4 linked regions of the Homo sapiens genome follow. The protein of the gene in region 1 interacts with the protein of each later gene in a pairwise test. Each region holds a gene or a part of one and is shown in the gene's direction. Other genes may lie near its edges. The genes, in order: SYCE1L, BFSP2, EPC1 and SLC7A8.

Evidence for each region.
Region 2: the proteins of SYCE1L (region 1) and BFSP2 interact in a two-hybrid assay, tested with the Homo sapiens proteins (one large-scale study listed by BioGRID).
Region 3: the proteins of SYCE1L (region 1) and EPC1 interact in a two-hybrid assay, tested with the Homo sapiens proteins (one large-scale study listed by BioGRID).
Region 4: the proteins of SYCE1L (region 1) and SLC7A8 interact in a two-hybrid assay, tested with the Homo sapiens proteins (one large-scale study listed by BioGRID).

Annotation. Positions count from the first base shown.
Region 1 is NC_000016.10:77,208,564-77,212,402, forward strand, and holds part of SYCE1L (synaptonemal complex central element protein 1-like), read left to right. Parts: intron 1-533; coding exon 534-581; intron 582-853; coding exon 854-908; intron 909-2,649; coding exon 2,650-2,713; intron 2,714-3,023; exon of another isoform or gene 3,024-3,368; intron 3,369-3,465; exon of another isoform or gene 3,466-3,566; coding exon 3,567-3,636; intron 3,637-3,718; coding exon 3,719-3,806; intron 3,807-3,839. UniProt on the Homo sapiens protein: May be involved in meiosis.
Region 2 is NC_000003.12:133,405,706-133,410,890, forward strand, and holds part of BFSP2 (phakinin), read left to right. Parts: intron 1-5,185.
Region 3 is NC_000010.11:32,266,569-32,271,707, reverse strand, and holds the end of EPC1 (enhancer of polycomb homolog 1), read left to right. Parts: coding exon 1-154; intron 155-2,572; coding exon 2,573-2,645; 3' UTR 2,646-3,957; downstream 3,958-5,139. UniProt on the Homo sapiens protein: Component of the NuA4 histone acetyltransferase (HAT) complex, a multiprotein complex involved in transcriptional activation of select genes principally by acetylation of nucleosomal histones H4 and H2A.
Region 4 is NC_000014.9:23,124,174-23,129,291, reverse strand, and holds the end of SLC7A8 (large neutral amino acids transporter small subunit 2), read left to right. Parts: intron 1-927; exon of another isoform or gene 928-1,095; coding exon 1,096-1,273; intron 1,274-1,948; coding exon 1,949-2,115; 3' UTR 2,116-3,997; downstream 3,998-5,118. UniProt on the Homo sapiens protein: Associates with SLC3A2 to form a functional heterodimeric complex that translocates small and large neutral amino acids with broad specificity and a stoichiometry of 1:1.

The DNA of each region.
Region 1 (3,839 bases):
CATCAACACTGCAGATGTTCCTGTGCATACCTCAGGGCCTTTGCACAGGCTGCTCCCTGGCCTACAATGCTCTTAGCTCACATAATCTGTATTGCCTTTCACTGTCTCATGTCATCTTTCAGCTCTCAGCTCAAATTTCACCCTGATAGGCCTATCTTGATGGTCTCATCTAAGAATAGAATCCCGCCCTCTCTTGGTCATTCTCACGCCCCTGGCTGATTTGTTTCTTAAGAGCCTTTATGTCCACCTGACACTGTGTGTGTATTTCTTTATAGCCATCTTTCTCCTCAGTGTAAACCTTGTACATTCTTCAGGGTCTTCACTCCTTCAACATTTACAAAGAATGTGGGCATAGAGGGGGAGAAGCTGGATCAGGATGGTCCTTCTGGGAGATGGTTGCAAGGGTGGCAAGAAGATACCTCACCTCTCCTAGGGCTGTACTACACCTTCTGTGTGGCTTTCCCCTTATATGAAGTTGCACTGGGGATGGCAATGGGGTGCCTGGAGGCAGAAAGTGTCATTGTGTTTTCCAGTGAATGGAGAGAAAGTGCACCTAGAGGAGGTCTTGGGCAAAAAGCAAGGTATTTACCAGTTGCTGTGTCTTCCTTATTCTACTCTTCCACCCCACAAAAGTCTATGCTCCTCAGAGCAGCCAGAGGAATCCCACTGAAACCTAAGGCAGGGTGCTTCCCTCTCTGCACAGATCTCTTCCTGGATTGCTACATCACTTGGAGTAAACACCCAAGTCCTCACAGTGCCCTCCAATGCCTGACATGATGTGGGGCCTATTACCTCTGGCCAACCCTGACTCCCCAAGAGCTCTCAAAGGGTCCCCTTGGTTCCTTCCCCACAGAGGCACTGAGGATCCTCCAGATGCACTGCCAAGAGAAGGAAAGCGAGGCTCAGAGGTAAGAGGCCCTGCCTCAGCTCTTCCCTACCTCATTCCCCAGCTGAAAAAGGAGGGAGCAAGAGCTGTGGAAATGAATCTTGGACACAGAAGCCTCATTTTACCTTTCTATAAAATAGAGCAGCCTGACAAAAGATTTCCTTGGTTATCTCTGATATTAAATGGTCGTGTTAAGATTAATTTACTCATTTAATTATTCGTTACTAATTTCTTTATCAAATATATTCCCTCCATTGGTCTTAGCCTCAGTCTTTTTCTGTTGGCTATCCAGCTCCTTTGATATCCATTCACTTGCTTATTTGCCTCCTTATTTTAAGCCCCAGTCATCCATTTGCCCACCCATTCATCTATCCACCCATCTAGCCATTCACCTACTCACTCATTCATCCATTCATCCATCTATCCAACCATGTCATCCAGCCAGATGGCTGTTTTATCTCCGGCCTTCCACCTAACAATCTTCCATCCATCCAATCATGCATTCATCCTCTCTTTATTCTTTCCATCATATATTCACTTAGCCAAACATCCATCCAGACATCTACCCTTCCTTTTAGCAATCCTTTCTTTCTCTGTCCAGCCACTATTCCTCTACTCATCATTTCTCCAATCAGCTATCATTTCTCCAGCCAGCAACTCACACATCCAGTCAACTGTCTATCCAACCTGTATCCATCCATCTCTTCATCCTCCCGAGTAGCTGAGATTACAGGCATGTGCCACCATGCCCGGCTAATTTTGTGTTTTTAGTAGAGATGGGGTTTCTCCATGTTGGTCAGGCTGGTCTCGAACTCTCGACCTTAGGTGATCCTGCCCACCTTGGCCTCCCAAAGTGCTGGGATTACAGGCGTGAGCTACCACACCCGACATCTTCTGAACTTTTACCTAGCACACTCCTGTTACCAGAGGTCTCTCATCCTGGTGCACCATGATTTTAATTGCATGGGGAAACCTGATGTTAGCTAATGTGTGATACTCAACCACACTACTCACACTGTATGATGAGCATTTATGCTCATTTATGTACCTAATCCTCACAATGATAATTATAGGAGTTAAGGCTAATGTCACCCTCCCATCACTACCACCATTTTACATATTAGGAAACTGAGACCCAGAGAGGTTAAGTAACTTGGCCAGGGTCTCGGTGAAGTAACAGATTAGGGTTCAAGCCAGGATGTTATAGAATCTGTGGTGCCAAATTACCACACGCCTCACAAAGCTTTCTTGGGAAGGCAGAGTTCATTCCATGGGGGACAGGATGGACAGGGTAATGTTCTCAACAGAGGCCCATGAAGGTTCTCATTCAACAGGAGAAACAAGAAAGGTGAATGCTGTGAACAGACATCCCAACTCCCACTCCTGCTGGAGTGAATGATGGGTCATTCAGAGAATATGACTGAGGGTTGTCTTTCCCTTCCCAGGAAGCACATGCTGCAAGAGTGCATGGAACAAATTTTTGCCCATAATTCTCAGGTTTCAGAGTCTCAAACAGAGGAATCTGGGGTAACTCCCAAGCCTGGGGCCTGGCAGGCCACTGTGTAGAAAGTGGGAACAGGGCTTGCATCAGGGAGAGTTTGTTGGAAGAGGTGCTACGGGAACCAAAGCTTAGAGGATAAAACCCATGAAGGGGCTCCCAGCAGAGGGAGCATGGGCAGGATCTGAAGGCCTGTGCATGAGGAGCCCCCAACAGGGTGTCAGGCCTAGCATGTGTTCTCTTATTCCTGGGTGTCGGCCTCCAGGTTGGATGTCAGAGGACAGCTGGAGGATCTGATGGGCCAGCACAAGGACCTCTGGGAATTCCACGTGAGCCATTATCATTGCCTGCAACCAAAGCCACTCCTCCCTGGCTTTAGTGTCGCACTGACTGGCCCAGAGTCCACCCCTGCCCAGGCTCAATGCCGCGGGATAGTCCTTGATTCCTTGCTTCCGCTTGCCCACCTATTCAGTCCCTCAGCTTTTATCTAAAATCAACTTACGCCTCACCATGCCCCACTGCCACACCCAGCATCACCTGCCCAGACGGGTGCAGTACCATTGTGATCCTGCTTTCCCCCTGCTCATCTAGTGTATGTTCACCTTGCAGTGGCAAATGGCAGCCCAGGGAAAGCCATGGTCAGGTCATTCCTTCATTTAGCTAATGTCAGTGGTTGCACCGGTCAGCATTTGAGGCAGGGAGGGAGGGTAGCAGATCAAAGAGTCCACGTCTTTGCTGTCCCAAGCTGGTTGGGGACGGTGGAGGCACCAAGAAAGTTAGTGGCTAGATCGTGGAACTTCAGTGGGAAGGCCTCTAAGCAAGTGACATCTCAACGCAGAGGTGAAGGAAGTGAGGGAAGAAGCCGTGCAGGTATCGGTGCAGAAGGAAGGCCCTGGGGCTGGACGGTGCCTGAAACCGTTGAGGAGCCGCAGATTGGGGAATGGAGGATGAGGAGAGTGGGAAGAGTTCAAGTTTGAGAGGTGCCTGGAGACATGGAGAGCGTTTAGGGGGAGGTGGGTGGGTCTCCAGCCACAGCAGGAACTGCACATTGAGTTAATAAATAGTTGAATGAATGAATGACCTAATGTAGGTGAAGACTTCGCGAGAAGCACAAAAGGGGAGGGGCGGGCCGTGTAGCCAAGAGGACGGCCAAACGGGGAGGCCTCCTCTTTGTCCTCGCAGATGCTGGAGCAGCGACTGGCCCGGGAGATCCGTGCCCTGGAGAGAAGCAAGGAGCAGCTGCTCTCGGAGAGTGAGCCTCCCGCGCCAGGTGGGCGGGGGGAGGGGGATGTGCCCGGGCCTCGGCCCTGCCCCTGACGCCCGCCCACCGACAGGGAGGCTGGTGCGCGCCAAGCTGCGGGAGGTGGAGCGGCGGCTGCACTCGCCGCCTGAGGTCGAGGGCGCCATGGCGGTGAATGACGGGTGAGAGGGGAAGGGAGGAGTGGGCGAGGAGGG
Region 2 (5,185 bases), on another chromosome or scaffold:
GTGCAATTTGTTTGGTCAGAGCAGGCCAGTGGGGCGGTTTCTTTGTCAGCCAAGCTATAAGGGACACTACAGTATGGTTAGAAATGTAGCTACCAGAGAAAAGTCCGTTAGAGAGATTCATTCCTCTTAGGAAGAGTGAGGTATATGATTGGAAGAAATATTTTGATGGGAGAGGGGGAGAAGGAGGCATGAGCCTGCTTCCCAAGGGTCTTGTTCATATAATACAGGTGGCCACTAAGCCTCTTTATTTATTTTTATTTATTTATTTTTTGATATGGAGTCTCACTCTGTTGCCCAGGTTGTGGCGCAATCTCGGCTCACTGCAACCTCCGCCTCCCGGGTTTAAGCGATTCTCCTGCCTCAGCCTCCCAAGTAGCTGGGATTACAGGTGCCCACCACCATATCCAGCTATTTTTTTTTTTTTTGTATTTTTAGTAGAGACAGGGTTTCACCATGTTGGCCAGGCTGGTCTCAAACTCCTGACCTCAGGTGATCCACCAGCCTTGGCCTGCCAAAGTATTGGGATCACAGGCGTGAGCCACCGTGCCCAGCCAGTCACTAAGCTGCTTTCTAAGAAAGGTGGTTTCTGGAAGTTGAATGTGTCTGGAAAGCAAGAGAACTGCTAAAGAAAACAGAGGGAGACTAGGGTGTGGCACTCAGGGCCTCTTTCCATGCCCCTCTCATACACCACACTCGGCCACTCTTAAACCTCTTAAGATCTCTTAAAATGTGAGTTCCATGTTGGGAAATGGAAGACAGGGGGTGGGGTCAGTTTTCCATGAAAACTAGGGAAAATTAGATGTGATGCAAAGACTGGGGATTTTGAAGCCAGACAGCCCCTAGCCTTGCCGCTTGCCATCTACCAACCGTGTGATCTTGAGCCAAGGTCTTCATTGATCTCTGCATCTCAGTTTCTCATCTGAATAATGAGGATGATTAGAGACTTCCTTTGACATGATAAAATATCTCTAAGAAGGAAACACTAGGCCTTCCACAGAAATTAAGAATGAGAAAAAGATGCCCGCTCTCTCTCGTTGGTTAGAGGCAGTAGTCAATATGATTAGACAAGAGAAAGTACTTGGTATAAGAATTGGAAAGAAAGAGGGAAAAATTTGGTCTTTCTGGAAATCCCAGAAGGAACAATGTAAAAACTATACGACAAAAAATAAGATGATTTAGTGAAGTAGCACGTTATAAAATAACATCAAAAAGCAATGCTGAGGCTGGGCATGTGGGCAAATGCCTGTAATCCAAGTACATTGTGAGGCCAAGGCAGAAGGATCACTTGAGCCTGGGAGGTTGAGGCTGCAGTGAGCCATGATTCTACAACTGCACTCCAGCCTGGGTGACAGAGCAAGACCCTGTCTCTAAAAGAAAAATAAATAAATAAATGCTGCTGGGCATGGTGGTACAAACCTGTAGTCCCAGGTATTCAAGAGGGTGAAGCAGGGGGATTGCTTGAGCCCAGGAGTTCAAGACCAGCCTGGGCAACAAAGCAAGGGCCATCTCAAAACAAATAACAAACAATGCTATTTATATATAAACAAAAAGATAAAAGAGATGAGAAAATCTTATTTATGATAGCGTAAGATGAATCACCTCTAAACTTCAGAAATGTCCAAAGTCTATATTAGACAACAATCAAATCTATCTGAAACACACAAAATAGTCTTGAACAAATGGAAAGAAACACCATGCACTCAAATAGACTCAATAGCATAAAGATGTCTCTTCTCCCTAAGTTAATGTATCAATTTAATGCAATCCTAATTTTTAAAATTCCATTTTTTTTTCTAGAGTTAGATGAGTTGATTTTAAATTCCCTTTGTAAGAACAGAAAGACAAGAATGGCCAGGAAAGAAAAACTAAGAAAGAGTGGAGGGGAGGAGGCTGGGGAGGGGACCAGCAGCCCCGCCAGACATTAACATATTATAAAGTCTCTGTAATTAAAATAGTTTAGCGTTGGCACAAAAAAGATGAGAAAACCATGGAACAGAATAGAACATTCTATAGTAAGCTCTACTGTGTTTGGAAATTGAGTATTGATGAAGGCAGCATTTGAAACCAATAGAGGGAAGGATGGACTTTTTAATAAGTGATATTCAGACAACTAGATAGTCATAAGGAAAATAATAAAATTAGATCCATTTCTTGCTGTACCCTAGGGTCAGTTCTAAATGTATCCTAGATATAAAATCAAAAATGAAACCATACAAGTAGAAAACATAGGTGAATTCCTTTATAACTTGGATGTGGGAAAAATTTTTCTTGTTACAATTCAAAATACAAAAGCAACAAAGGAAAATATTGATAAATTTGATTAAGAAAAATTTTAAAATGTTGCATTTCAAAATATCACCATAAGCAAAATTAAAAGATAAATGACAAACTAGAAAAAAAAATGCAATGTAGGATACAAAAGGTTAAAATAGCCCTATTTTATACACAGCATTTAAAATTTGAGGTTAAAAAAAGCCGATAGCACTCTTTTATTTTTAAATGTTAGAGATATGAACAGACAGTTGACACAAAAAATAGATGAAAATGGCTCCTAATGTCTCAACTGCACTCATAATAAGAGAAATTTTTAAAATCTACCTGAGATACCACTTTTACCTATCCAATTAGCAAAACTCTAAAAGTATGTCAAACTATTTGTTGGTGAAGCTCTAGGGAAACAGGCAAGTTTATACAGTGTTGATGGGAATAGAAAATGTTACAACCCCTATGGAGAAAAATTTGGCAACATCTAGACAAATTATATAGGCATTTATGTATACATAATTTGACCCAGCAGTCCTGTTTCTAGGACACACTCCCAATGACACACTGGCAAAAATATGAACAAGAAGTATGTACAAAGCTGTTCACTGCAATCCTATCTGTAATACCAAAATACTGGAAAAATCCAAATACCTCCCAGGAGGGGACTCGTTGAATAAACCATGATGCATCTGCAAAGGAACAAGAAATCGCTCTATAGCTACTATGGAGTGATGATCTCCAGGATATGTTATTGAGCTAAAAGGCAAGATGGAAAGAGTGTGTATTTCATTCTACCATCTAGCTAAGAAAAGGGAAGGATATGAATATATACATACATATGTGTTTACATTGAAAAAATGGAATAAAACAAACCATAAGTATTTTTAAATGTTACTTATAGGAGGGTGGAGGGGAAAAAGTAGCAGGGAAAGGTAGGGCACTAGAGTTCTTCTAATTTATCTTGTTATGTGGAGATGACTTTGGAACCATGAAAATATTTTACAGAATTGTATAACAAAAATAGATTTCAGAAAGCCAATTCTAAGAATCAAAAATAAAAAGAAACAAATGAATCCAGCTATGTACCAAGTTGATAGCATAGTCACACGAAGAAGAACTATTCCAAGTGGCTTTTTAAACCACAGGAATTTAACTGTACATTCCTAGTGGAGATGCAAAAGACAACAGAAAAAAACCCAACAATTTTTCAGTAATCACATTGGTGGTGGTAGCACTGGCACTGTTATTCTGACACTGGTGTGTGTGTGTGTGTGTGTGTGTGTGTGTACTGTGGGACAGAGTAAGAGAGTAACTATATTTGTGTTATTGAAAACTGAGACTTGAATGTGAGTGAAAGGAGATACAGTTGTAAGATGCATGACGTTTAGTGACAATTCTTTAGTCTTGAATTTAAATCAGAATTATCAATATAAAGTCATGATATATGTGATCATGAAAATAAATATATGCCTATTTCCAAGTCTGACCACTGAAAAGATCTAGAAGCAATGGCCAACTTAGCGACAATGAACATTTTTAGCCTCAGATTTGGGTCTCTAACAACCATCTTTCACTAAAAGAATGGGGGGCTCCTTGTAGAAATGGCTGAATCCAGGTTCGAGGATAGGAAATATTCAAGACGAGTCTGAAACACCTTGTCATACCAGAAAGCAAGGACGCTATGAAAAACTACTACAGTCATGTCAGAAGACTTAGGAGTCAATTCAAAGAAGCTCCCACTAACCAAAGATGGTTGGGAATCAATAAGAATATTATCAGGGCTTCCAGTAAGGTGAACAAGAAGACATCCATGTGCTGGGAGGGTGGCTACCCCAACTCCATGGGGACAGAACTCCTGTGCTCAGGACTCTTCTACACCTCATGCTGTGGAATCTAAAGCAACAGCAAAGCTGAGGTCCAACTGCCATAAGGATGGACACCAAGGAGGCTGCACTGGGGAGAAAAAGAAGTCAAGATAAGCAACATGAACCATAAAGCCCGGACCGTGGCGGGTATGAAAGAACAAGAAAGGCGGGATCAGGAAATTCAACAGGACGAAGTTGCCTTCCCACCTAGCTCTCTTCTCTTTGCTGAGCCATACAAAACTACTAGCAAGGAAGATAAGTTATCGAGTTGTATCCAGAGTAGGCTTGGAAACTATGGTGAAATGAAAGATTTTATAGGAGACAAATCTATACCAAGGCTTATTGCAGTTTCCAAGCCTACGGTACCACCTATAACAGATGAAAATGGACCCCAGTAGGACCTCTGCACCCAGCATTTCTGTCCCAGAAACAGTCCTCAGGCTTACAGAGTGGACATAGTAGCCAGTAGACCGGTGCAGGTGGCAGCAGTGGCACTAACAGTCGTGGCCAGAGACATGACTGTGACTCACATAGCAGTAGTGGGAGCAGAAGACCAGAGAAAAATGTCAGCATGGATCACAGCACTCCAAGCCGCGCTCTTCCAGCCCTGGGAAACCCCAGGCTGTCTCTTCGTTAAGCTCCAGTCATTCCAGCTCTCATGGGAATGATCAGCATAGCAAGGAATATCAGCGCTCCAAATCACCTGGGGACCCTAATGCAAACGGGGATTCTCCCTCTCACGTATCTTTTCCAAGTGGGCAGCACTCAAATCAGTCTTTCCCACCTTCGTTGATGTCAAAGTTCAGTTCAATGTTACAGAAACCTATTGCCTGTGTGCAGCCCGTGGGCGGACAGGAGTCCGTGGGCGGACAGGAGTCTGTGGAACCAGAGCTGTCCTCTGAGCGCTACAGTAGCCAATCCCATGGTGACAGCACAAATGAGCTGCAGCCCAGCAGCAAAGCACATCTCGCCAGGCTGAAAATACCTTTCTAACCGCTGGACCTAAGTCACACATTCAGAGCTTTTAATATTGTGACTATGTGAAGCAATTGAAC
Region 3 (5,139 bases), on another chromosome or scaffold:
CAGTTGCCACTGTAAACTCTATTGCCCCAATAAATGCACGACATATACCTAGGACTTTAAGTGCTGTTCCATCATCTGCCTTAAAGCTGGCCGCTGCAGCAAACTGTCAAGTTTCCAAGGTCCCATCTTCATCCTCTGTAGATTCAGTTCCAAGGTGAGTAGTTATTTTTGCCTAACATACCTGGAATAAGAGATCTAACTTCAGTCCTCCAGCATCGTTCTTTACCTATTTCTTTGTGTTTCTTGTTCTTTTCCTTTTATACATTGAAAATGTATAGTTGAGAATTGATCACTTATTTATTCAAGAACTAAACAGTTCTTGAACACTTAATTCAATATTAAGAATTTGAACTAACTGGTATAGTGAATGTTGCATATATGATTTGGAACATCCCTTTCTTACTATAACAATAGTTATACCAGGTGCAGTGGCTCACGCCTGTAATCCTAGCACTTTGGGAGGCAGAGGCAGGCAGATCACCTAAGGTCAGGAGTTCGAGAACAGCCGATCCAACATGGTGAAAGGCCACCTCTACTAAAAATACAAAATCACCCGGGCATGGTGGCGCATGCCTGTAATCTCAGCTACTCAGGAGGCTGAGGCAGGAGAATCGCTTGAACCTGGGAGGTGGAGGTTGCAACCAAGATCGCACCATTGCACTCTGGCCAGGGCAACAAGAGCTAAACTCTGTCTCAAAAAAAAAAAAAAGCGTATAATGCTCTCAGTTTTCTTCCGTCTTTGGATGGAAGGAGTTCTCCTGAGAGCGTTTCTTTTATGACTTTTTTTCCACAGCTTCTCATGTAAACAGGTAGAATTGATAGAAACCCCTGCCCCATCACTGGTATGCTAAGCTATTCTTTTTTTTTTTTTTTTTTTTTTTTTTTTGAGACCGAGTCTCGCTCTGTTGCCCAGGCTGGAGTGCAGTGGCACAATCTCAGCTCACTGCAATCTCTGCCTCCCAGGTTCAAGTGATTCTGTCTCAGCCTTCTGAGTAGATGGGATTACAGGCATACACCGCGATGCCTGGCTAATTTTTGCATTTTTAGCAGGGACGGGGTTTCACCATGTTGGCCATGCTAGTCTTGAACCCCTGACCTCAGGTGGTCAGCCTGCCTTGGCCTCCCAAAGTGCTGGAATTACAGGCATGAGCCACCACGCCCGGCGTTAAGCTATTCTTATTAATGTAAAGACTTACAGTATTCATGCCAGGTCAACTCTAAATTGAACCATTATTTTTTGTGCTAACTTGCCGTCTTGGATTTCAGTAGACAGTTGAGAATTTTGCTTATGCTCTATTATGTTGTAGAATTAAGGGTAGTTAAAATCCTGCTGTCTACAAGGTACTGTGGGAGAAACAAAAGAAAAAGACAGGTGTTTTCAGTTTAGTTAGCAGACAAGCATAAAAGAGTGAGAAGTCCAATAATGCTAATTGTAGATATCACAAAGCATTATATACTTGTTAAATTAATTGTATAGATGATGGCTGTAATTCAGTATAAGGAGAAATCTTTTTTTGCACAGGGAATTCTGGGACTCTTCTAACAAAATAAGATCAGATCCAATCTGTGTTAGTCTTCGGGCAAAGAGGAGAAAGAAAAAGCATTTCTGGCAGGTGGAGTGAAATACAAATTTGAGGCTGAGTGAAAATACAAAGTTGAGGAAATACAAGTGTTTAGAAGTTAACAAGTAAACTGGTTTTTGTATAGGCTCAGGAAGGTTAGTAGTTTAAATTGGAATGGCAGGAGAAGCCATTCCAGATTCCTGGAGCACTTTAAATGCCAGACTGGTAGACTGTCTCAGCCAGGAGTGGCCCAGAAGAAAGCAGGGTTTGTAGCAATGAACTGTGGCCTGTAGTTTCCAAACCATGCATCTGCATCTGCTTCTGAATTTAAGTAACAGTCATTGTCTGCTTAATGCCAATCCATTCTTAATAGTATTCTGGGTCTAATTATATAGCTCATCTGTCAGCTATAGTTCTGACTCATATCATGATTTTACTGCTCTAGAATTGTTTAACCATGGAATATTTGCCATGTATAGAATTTTCATATCACATGTCCTTTTGTTTTTAAAGATGAAGAAACTGAGACGCAGAGAAGTTAATGTATTTCTCTAAGGACACTCAAAAGTCTAGACTGTAGAACCACTAGGGCCCTCGAGCTCTGTGGCTGTGCCACTCAGCTCCATGTATTAGACTGATTTAAAGCCTGACACAAATCTCAGTTATGTTTGTTTCCTTTTTAAAAACTCTTTTGAAAGGTTTAATAGAGAAGGAACTTGAAACAACAATTACTAAAACATGGGAATTCTTTGTTTTTAACATCTAGGTTGCTTGAGTACTACTATAATTTTGATGGTAATGTAGTTGACTGTGGAATTTATTTATAGTCAACATTAGCCTGATTTCTGATAATAAACTATAAAGATTCGTATTCCTCTACTTGCTAGCTTGTTCCCAAAGAGTCCAATTTCTTCCTGTTAATAAAAATAAACTTTTTGTTGGGAAGATAATGTTCATTTGCTGAATATTTATGTTGTAGATAAGTAATTGATTGAACTTTATTTCAACAGGGAAAATCATGAATCAGAAAAGCCAGCACTGAACAACATAGCAGACAACACAGTAGCGATGGAGGTGACGTAGCTTCCTCCGAGTGGAACTGCAGCCTGGGGACTTGATTAGGTGCTATGCATCAGTAGCATTTTGAATGCAAGGGATGATGGAAAGCAGCACATGCGTTTCTGTGGCAGCTGTGGGGACTTGACAGCAATGCTCATCTCTCATGCTTCAATTTTTCTTTTCTTACTGTTAATAGGAAAAAAATCAACATCTGTAAATTAAGAATACAGCAATTATCTGTACAGTACTGCATATTTGTAATACCCTTGTATATATGTTACTTGAATACAGAAATGTTCATTTGTGATGCTTTGCACTTGGGGGTGGGGGGTGGGAGGGAAATCAATTGCAACAAAGAGTGTGAGATGTGAGATTGTATAGAGATGAAGTGTCATCACATCATGTGCATGGTGCGGAACCTGCTGTTTTATCTATTTATTGTGCCGTGTTTACAGTTTTTTGTACACTGTACCTTCATTGGTTCCTGTGCTGTAGTAAATGTGTTAGGTAGCTGTGGACTCCTTGGTATTTTGTAAATGGTATAACATAACTTGGTTCCCCTCTGGGTCCTTGAGTTTTCTGTGTATCATGTGAAAAAAAATGGTGACATACATACAGAATTTTACAAAAAAAAAAAAAAAAAAAAAGGCATCAGTTTTTTTAAAAATGGGGAATGTACTATTAAATGGGGATCTTCCTGGTCTACTATCATTAGGACAAGTAACAAGCTAAAAATGAAGTCTCTTGAATCTTTCCATCCCCAACTTGCCCACAAAGCTGTGGGTGGTTTCTGGTACTTAAAGCACTAATATTATGTTGCTGCTCTGCGAACAGCCCAGTAGTCCCATTTCCTTCCACACCAAAAAGTGTTAAATCAAGTATGCAAATGGAGTCCTTACAACTGGAGTTTATGTTGTCTTGCCCTTTTTTTAGCACAAAAAAAATTGTACTTTTTTATTGTCGAATTGTTTAAAAGACTTCATTCTTTACTTGTTCTTACGAAAAGGATATAAGGGAGAAGAATGCAGTAATTGCTGTACGTGTATCATCATTCCAGTTTCTAAAAACAGCCAGCCAGCTTTTTTCCTTTTAAGATTCTCCAGAAGGCTGCAAGGCCAGAACCACAAATATCGGGTGCCTTCCTTTGGAAATATTTGACCTCTCTTCTGTGAAGAGAATGGTACTTAACAGACTACTACTAGTGCTTTGTCAGTACCGAAGTCTGAATGCCCAGTCCAATGGCATACATTATCCTTAAGGTTTTTAATCCCACCTGGAAAAATTGTGATAGAATTCTCACAAAATAAACCCAGGGCATTACATGTTGACAAACTAATGTGTAGTGGTCTTTTGCTTTTGTTTTCAACCCAAGAACCTCTGTGTGACTTATATTAGAATCATTCCATAAAGGAGGGGATGGAAATGGGGGGTGATGACTTTAAGTTCATTTTCTTCAACAGTTACTTACTGAATGACTGCAATGCCTGGGACCACTTTAGGTCCTACAACTGTGGGGAAAATAATTCCTGCCCTCATGGAGCTTATACTCTCATAGGGGGAAAATAAATAAATAAATGCATTTAAAATATATTACGACCAGTATTTGGAAGAAAAGTGAAGGAAGGGAACAAACAGTGCCCGGGAAGGCTGGAGGTTGCAGTTTCAAGTAGGGTGGTCAAGGAAGGGCCCACAGGCAGTTATGTTTCATCAGAGACTGGAAGTTAAGGAAAAATATTCCAGGCAGAGAGAAGTACAGAGATCCCGAGGTGGTAGTGTGTCTACTGCACTGGATAACACCGCCAGGGCTGGAGGGAGCTGGGGTAGGGCGTGTCGGCCACAGGGAGCCAGCTCACAGTGGACTGGGGGATGATTTAAGGACATTAGCTTTTCCTCTGAGAAAGGAGTTTGGAGCCATGGAGTGACATGGTCTGAAGAGGCTCACTCTGGCTTTGTTATTCAGAACAGACTGCAGGAGGAGCCCAGTTAGGAAGCTAGTTGCAGTAATGCAAGTGAGAGACAAGGATAATAAGGCCGAGGATGGTAGTGAGAAGTGATTGGATACTGTTCTTTAAAGGGACCTATTAAAATTTGCTTACTGAATTTAGATGTAAGGGGCTTGAGAAAGAGAAGAGTTAGGATGACTTCAGGGTATTTGGCCTGAGCAACTGACCACAGGTGGAAAGCACTGTGGGAGGAGTGGGTTTGCGAGATCCAAAATTCAGCTTCACACTGTTAGACATCCAAATAGAGATTTCAAGTAGGTGGTTGCATATATAAAAGTATGGAGTTTGGAGGAGAGGTTTCAGCTGGAGACCAAAACTTGAGAGTCATCTTCATCATTGAAGTTCAAAGCCATGAATTTGGATGCGATCACCAAGAGTAGAATCAAATCTGTAAAACAGCTGCCAATGATAGGGTGTTCCACTTACTCTTGACTTTAAGAATTCCTTGTCTCTAAAGGGTAAACTTCCAATTTGCATAACTTTTTGTTTATTCTGTTCTGTATTCTTTAAGGAGA
Region 4 (5,118 bases), on another chromosome or scaffold:
TGTCTCCATCCCAGAATGACTTCCTCCTCCCATCTGCCCATCTACATTTTAACCATTTTCCAAATGCGCCTCAAGTACCTCCTCTTTCTTGAAGTCTTCCAGTCTACTGCAACCTCCCATGATCCTCCCTTTATAAACTCCCACAGTCCTACACATATAGGGTGCTCAGTGAACCTAATATTGCTACAAGATATAACTCTGTGATAGGAATTAAAGGGATTGCTCAGAACAGGACATGCTAGAGCATTATGAGTTCTCCTACGAATTAGAAGAATAGAGTGTACTCCAGAGCTATTTGAACAATCCTATTCTAGAAACAGTGACTAGATGCTTCTAGAAGATCCTTCCAGCTGAAAAATCAAAGGCTCTCCAAATCTCTCAGTTCCTCACTGGCATTTCCACCGCCATTTTCTACTCTCACACTTAGAAAATCTGCTAGAGGGAAGAGGAGGTAGAATAACCCCATGTCCCCACCACACACATCCCTTCTGAGCGAGGAAGACAAGGAAGAGAAAGGCAGCCGAATCAGGACTGCCCCTGGAGCCCTGAAGAGGATACTCTCAGGAACTCCCCACATGTGGCCCATAAGGAGCTGACATTTGCCATATTGTGCCCACATAAGGGCCCTGCACAGAAGTGGGCAAGGACCAGGGAGCCTGAGTGACTCGAATCGTCTCCTGCCTGCACCTTGTGCATTGCCACACCTCCCCTCCACCCTAGGACCTCAGCAGACACACCCATGTGCCAGCAAGCTTCTCCATCCCTGTGGGCTTCTCTGGCTGCCACGGGCACATGGCATGCATGATGAGGCCTTGTCTAACCACACCCAAGAGCGAGGACATGGGCAAGGAGGATCGTTTCCTCCCTAACTCCTCCCCATCCTCTTCCTGTCTGACCGACCATGTTCATCAACATTTGTTTATATAGCCCCTGCCCTACCAGGGGTGAGTGTGGGACCACAGAGCCGAGGGAAGCCCAGCCTTTGCCCTTGAGGATGTGTCTCTGTGGGTGAAGAAGAGAGAGAATGCCCCAGTCCCTAGTCCTGGGGGCCACGTGGCCTACACAGTTCATACGCCTCATGCCTCTGCTCCACAGATCAACCTGCTGTTCCCCATCATCTACTTGCTGTTCTGGGCCTTCCTGCTGGTCTTCAGCCTGTGGTCAGAGCCGGTGGTGTGTGGCATTGGCCTGGCCATCATGCTGACAGGAGTGCCTGTCTATTTCCTGGGTGTTTACTGGCAACACAAGCCCAAGTGTTTCAGTGACTTCATTGGTGAGTTGTTGGAGGCTCTGGCTGGCTTCAGGGCCTCCTGGGCTGGAATGCAGTGGTCAGTGATGGGGTTGGGGAGCCACCAGGGCCAGGAGATCTAGGCTCACCTTCTCCTCAGTCCACAGAGCCCTGGAAGAGTCCAGAGCAGGGGAAGCAGATGCCTTTTCCCAGAGACCTCTGAGGGTAGAGAACAGCTGGCATTTCCACACAGACCTTAGACCCGCAAGAATAGGCAACCTGGGCTGGGCACAGTGGCTCACGCCTGTAATCCCAGCACTTTGGGAGGCTGAGACAGAGGATCACTTGAGCCCAGGAGGTTGAGACCAGCCTGGTCGACATAGCAAGACTCCATCTCTGTTATTAAAAATTTTAAAATAAAATAGGCAACCTGTCAGCCATTCTGTGAGAGCTGCCCGAGGCTGGGTGGAGACCAGAGGAGACCCTGGACTTAGGGGTCAGTGGGCACAGGGAAGGTGGGAAGGCTGGGGCCTTCATAAGCAAAGAGTAGCCGGCGGGAGATGCAGGAGGCAGACCAGGTGGCGAGGATTCTCTTCAACGCACTGACTGCTCTGAAGAGGCAGAACCTGGAGCAGGAGAGCCAGGAAGGGCCGGGGCCACTTGGCCAGGTTGGTGGGATACTCAGCATTGGCCTGGTTTCTGTGTGATCTCTTCCTACAGAGCTGCTAACCCTGGTGAGCCAGAAGATGTGTGTGGTCGTGTACCCCGAGGTGGAGCGGGGCTCAGGGACAGAGGAGGCTAATGAGGACATGGAGGAGCAGCAGCAGCCCATGTACCAACCCACTCCCACGAAGGACAAGGACGTGGCGGGGCAGCCCCAGCCCTGAGGACCACCATTCCCTGGCTACTCTCTCCTTCCTCCCCCTTTTATCCTACCTCCCTGCCTTGGTCCTGCCAACACATGCGAGTACACACACACCCCTCTCTCTGCTTTTGTCAGGCAGTGGTAGGACTTTGGTGTGGGTGGTGAGAAATTGTAAACAAAAACTGACATTCATACCCAAAGAACCAGCCTCTCACCCCAGGGTCCATGTCCCAGGCCCCACTCCAGTGCTGCCCACACTCCCAGCTGCTGGAGGAGAGGGGAGATGCCAAGGTGCCCTGCAGGACCTCCCTCCGGGCCACACCCTCAGCTGCCTCTTCAGGAACCGGAGCTCATTACTGCCTTCCCTCCCAGGGAGGCCCCTTCAGAGAGGAGAGGCCACAGGAGCTGCATTGTGGGGGGACAGGCTCAAGCAATTCTGTCCCCATCAAGGGGTCAGCTGGAGAGACCCAAGACCCTATCTGTTCACCAGGGACCCAAAATCCAAGGGGATGCTTCCCTCTGCCCTCTTTCCTGCCCCTCCCCATCATACCTGCACCCACCCCAGCCAGGGCTCCCTGTCCAGAATTCGGTTCTCCTCAGGACGCCAACTCCCAGAGCTAAGGACCAAGGAGAAGAACAGCCTCTCCACCCCCAAGCCAGGCGGTTGAGGAACATATTGAGAAAGGTTCAGATTGCAGAAACCCAGCCCTGCCCCTGCCTCCTGCATCCAGCCCCCAACATGGTGCCAAAGCTTCCAGAAGCCAAAAAGCTTCTGATTTTTAAGGTAGTGGGCATCTCTCTCCTAATGACGAAGCTGCTCAGCAACTCCACCTGCCCGCCGCAGGAAGGAGCAGTCCCCTGCTATCCCTGCAGCCACTCCCAGCACACCCGCACACAGCCAGCACCACCGCCCCCACCGTGCACTTCTCCTCTCTGGGCCTTGGCTTGGGACCAGGTACGAAGGATCCCCAAGCCCTTCAGGCCTGAGATCAGAGCCAGATCAGCCTTAAGTCACCTCCCATCCAAGAACTTGGCCTAAAAATACTCCCCTATTTCTAACCCTCAGGACGGATCTGATATTAAATGCCTTCCCTGGGAGGAAGGGTGCTTTCCCCCTCCCTAGAGGTGCCCATTCCATACCCTGGGAGACTGAGGAGAGCATTGGCTGAAGCCCAGTTCCTTTCCCATCCATCCCCAACTCCAATAATCCCCCACTCCTCGCAGGTCTCAGTGTCATGCTGTCTTGGGGCAGGGTGAAAGGGTAGTGGCAGCAGGGCGCCCACTCTGGAGATCCTCAAAAAAGGCCCTCCTCTGTGGCTGGCAGCCTCTGACCTTTCCCTGGGCTTCAAAGGAAGGCTATGGAGTTTGCTGTGGGCCCTGCAACCTTCCCAGCCACTCCTGCTGCACTAAGGACTTAGGATCCTTTTATCACAAATCGGGATTCTCTCCCCCACCCCGAATTCTGTCTGCTTAAACTGGAATACACAGGAGCCCTTCCTGGCCTGGATGGTGTCTCCCAGCTTCCCCGCCCAGCTTGCCCACCCCATAGTTGGTGAGATGCCAAGTTTGGTCTGAGTTGTGACCCCTTCAGAGTAGATGCCCGGCAGGCTGGGGTTGGCCCCTGGAGGGTCAGGGGACCATCTTCTTATTCCCTCTTTTCTCATTCCTCCAACTTCCTCCCCTCCTTCAATTATTTTTTTGTAAAGTTGATGCCTTACTTTTTGGATAAATATTTTTGAAGCTGGTATTTCTATTTCTTTTGGATTTTTTTTAATGTAAGGTTGTTTTGGGGGATGGAGTTAGAACCTTAATGATAATTTCTTTCGTTTGGTGTAGGTTTTAGAGATTTGTTTTGTGGAGAGGTTTTTTTCTTTTGATGTAATAAAATTTAAAATGGAAATGAAGTTGGTGGTGTTGGTAATTAAGTAACCTTTTGAGACAGAGTCACCAGGCATTTCCTCTTAGGAGATCTTGCCAGGTTCCTTCCAGAATGACATTCCTAAAAGCTCTCGCTCTCTGTAACTTCTAGCTATCCTAGGGACTCAATGCCAGTGCATTCAAACCACTGACTCTCATTCTGAACCAAAAACATCAAAAGACAAAAGTACAACGAATTTACAGATCTCAATTGTTTACTGTAATTCTGGAATCAGGCAACACTTCATTCCATAAAATAGAATACATATTCCAATGAGTTGAGCAGAAGAGGTTGGCTTTACAGACAGGGAGGGCTGAAGAAAGCTGGTTAGTCACTTTTCGAAGTTGCTTTTCTTGGCCGGGCACAGCGGCTCACTCCCGTAATCCCAGCACTTCGGGAGGCCGAGGAGGGAGGATCTCTTGAGCCCAGGAGTTTGAGACCAGCCTGGGCAACATAGCAAGACCTCGTCTCTACAAAAGATAAAATTAGCTGGGCATGGTGGTATGTGCCTGTGGTCCCAGCTCCTTGGGAGGCCGAGGCCGAAAGGAGGATGGGTTGAGCCTGGGAGGTCGAGGCTGCAGTGAGCTATGCTTGCGCTACTGCCCTCCAGCCTGGGCGGAAGAGCAAGCCCCTGTCTCAAAAACAAAAACAAATTTACTTTTCTTGTAAGGTGGGGACAGGGAGACGGAACAATAGAAAAATAACTGATTAGTTCATATCAGGATCCTTCAGGCTGCCTTGTTTTGTGTAAAGATTAAAGCAGAGGGAACTTCATTATCATGTCCATTGAATATTGAAACTGGCCTGTTTTAATTGGCTGTTATGTCTCTCTCCTGATTTCTAGGAAGGTCAGATAACAACTTAGTTTAGATTTGGTGATGTGGAACTTTAGCATGGGTGATTCTATTTTGATTTTTAGCCTGGTCTGTGGGGCCTAGGGCAGGAGCTTAGTCCAAAACCATGGCCTTCTGTAATTTTTTATTTAACAACACTGTCTCACTCCTTCTTGGAGTCATGAAGTGTTATTAAGTTCCTGCTCTGTGCACCGTACTGAAAGCCTGCAGACTAACTGGGAAGAAGTCAACATTGCCCAGGGTGGGACATGGG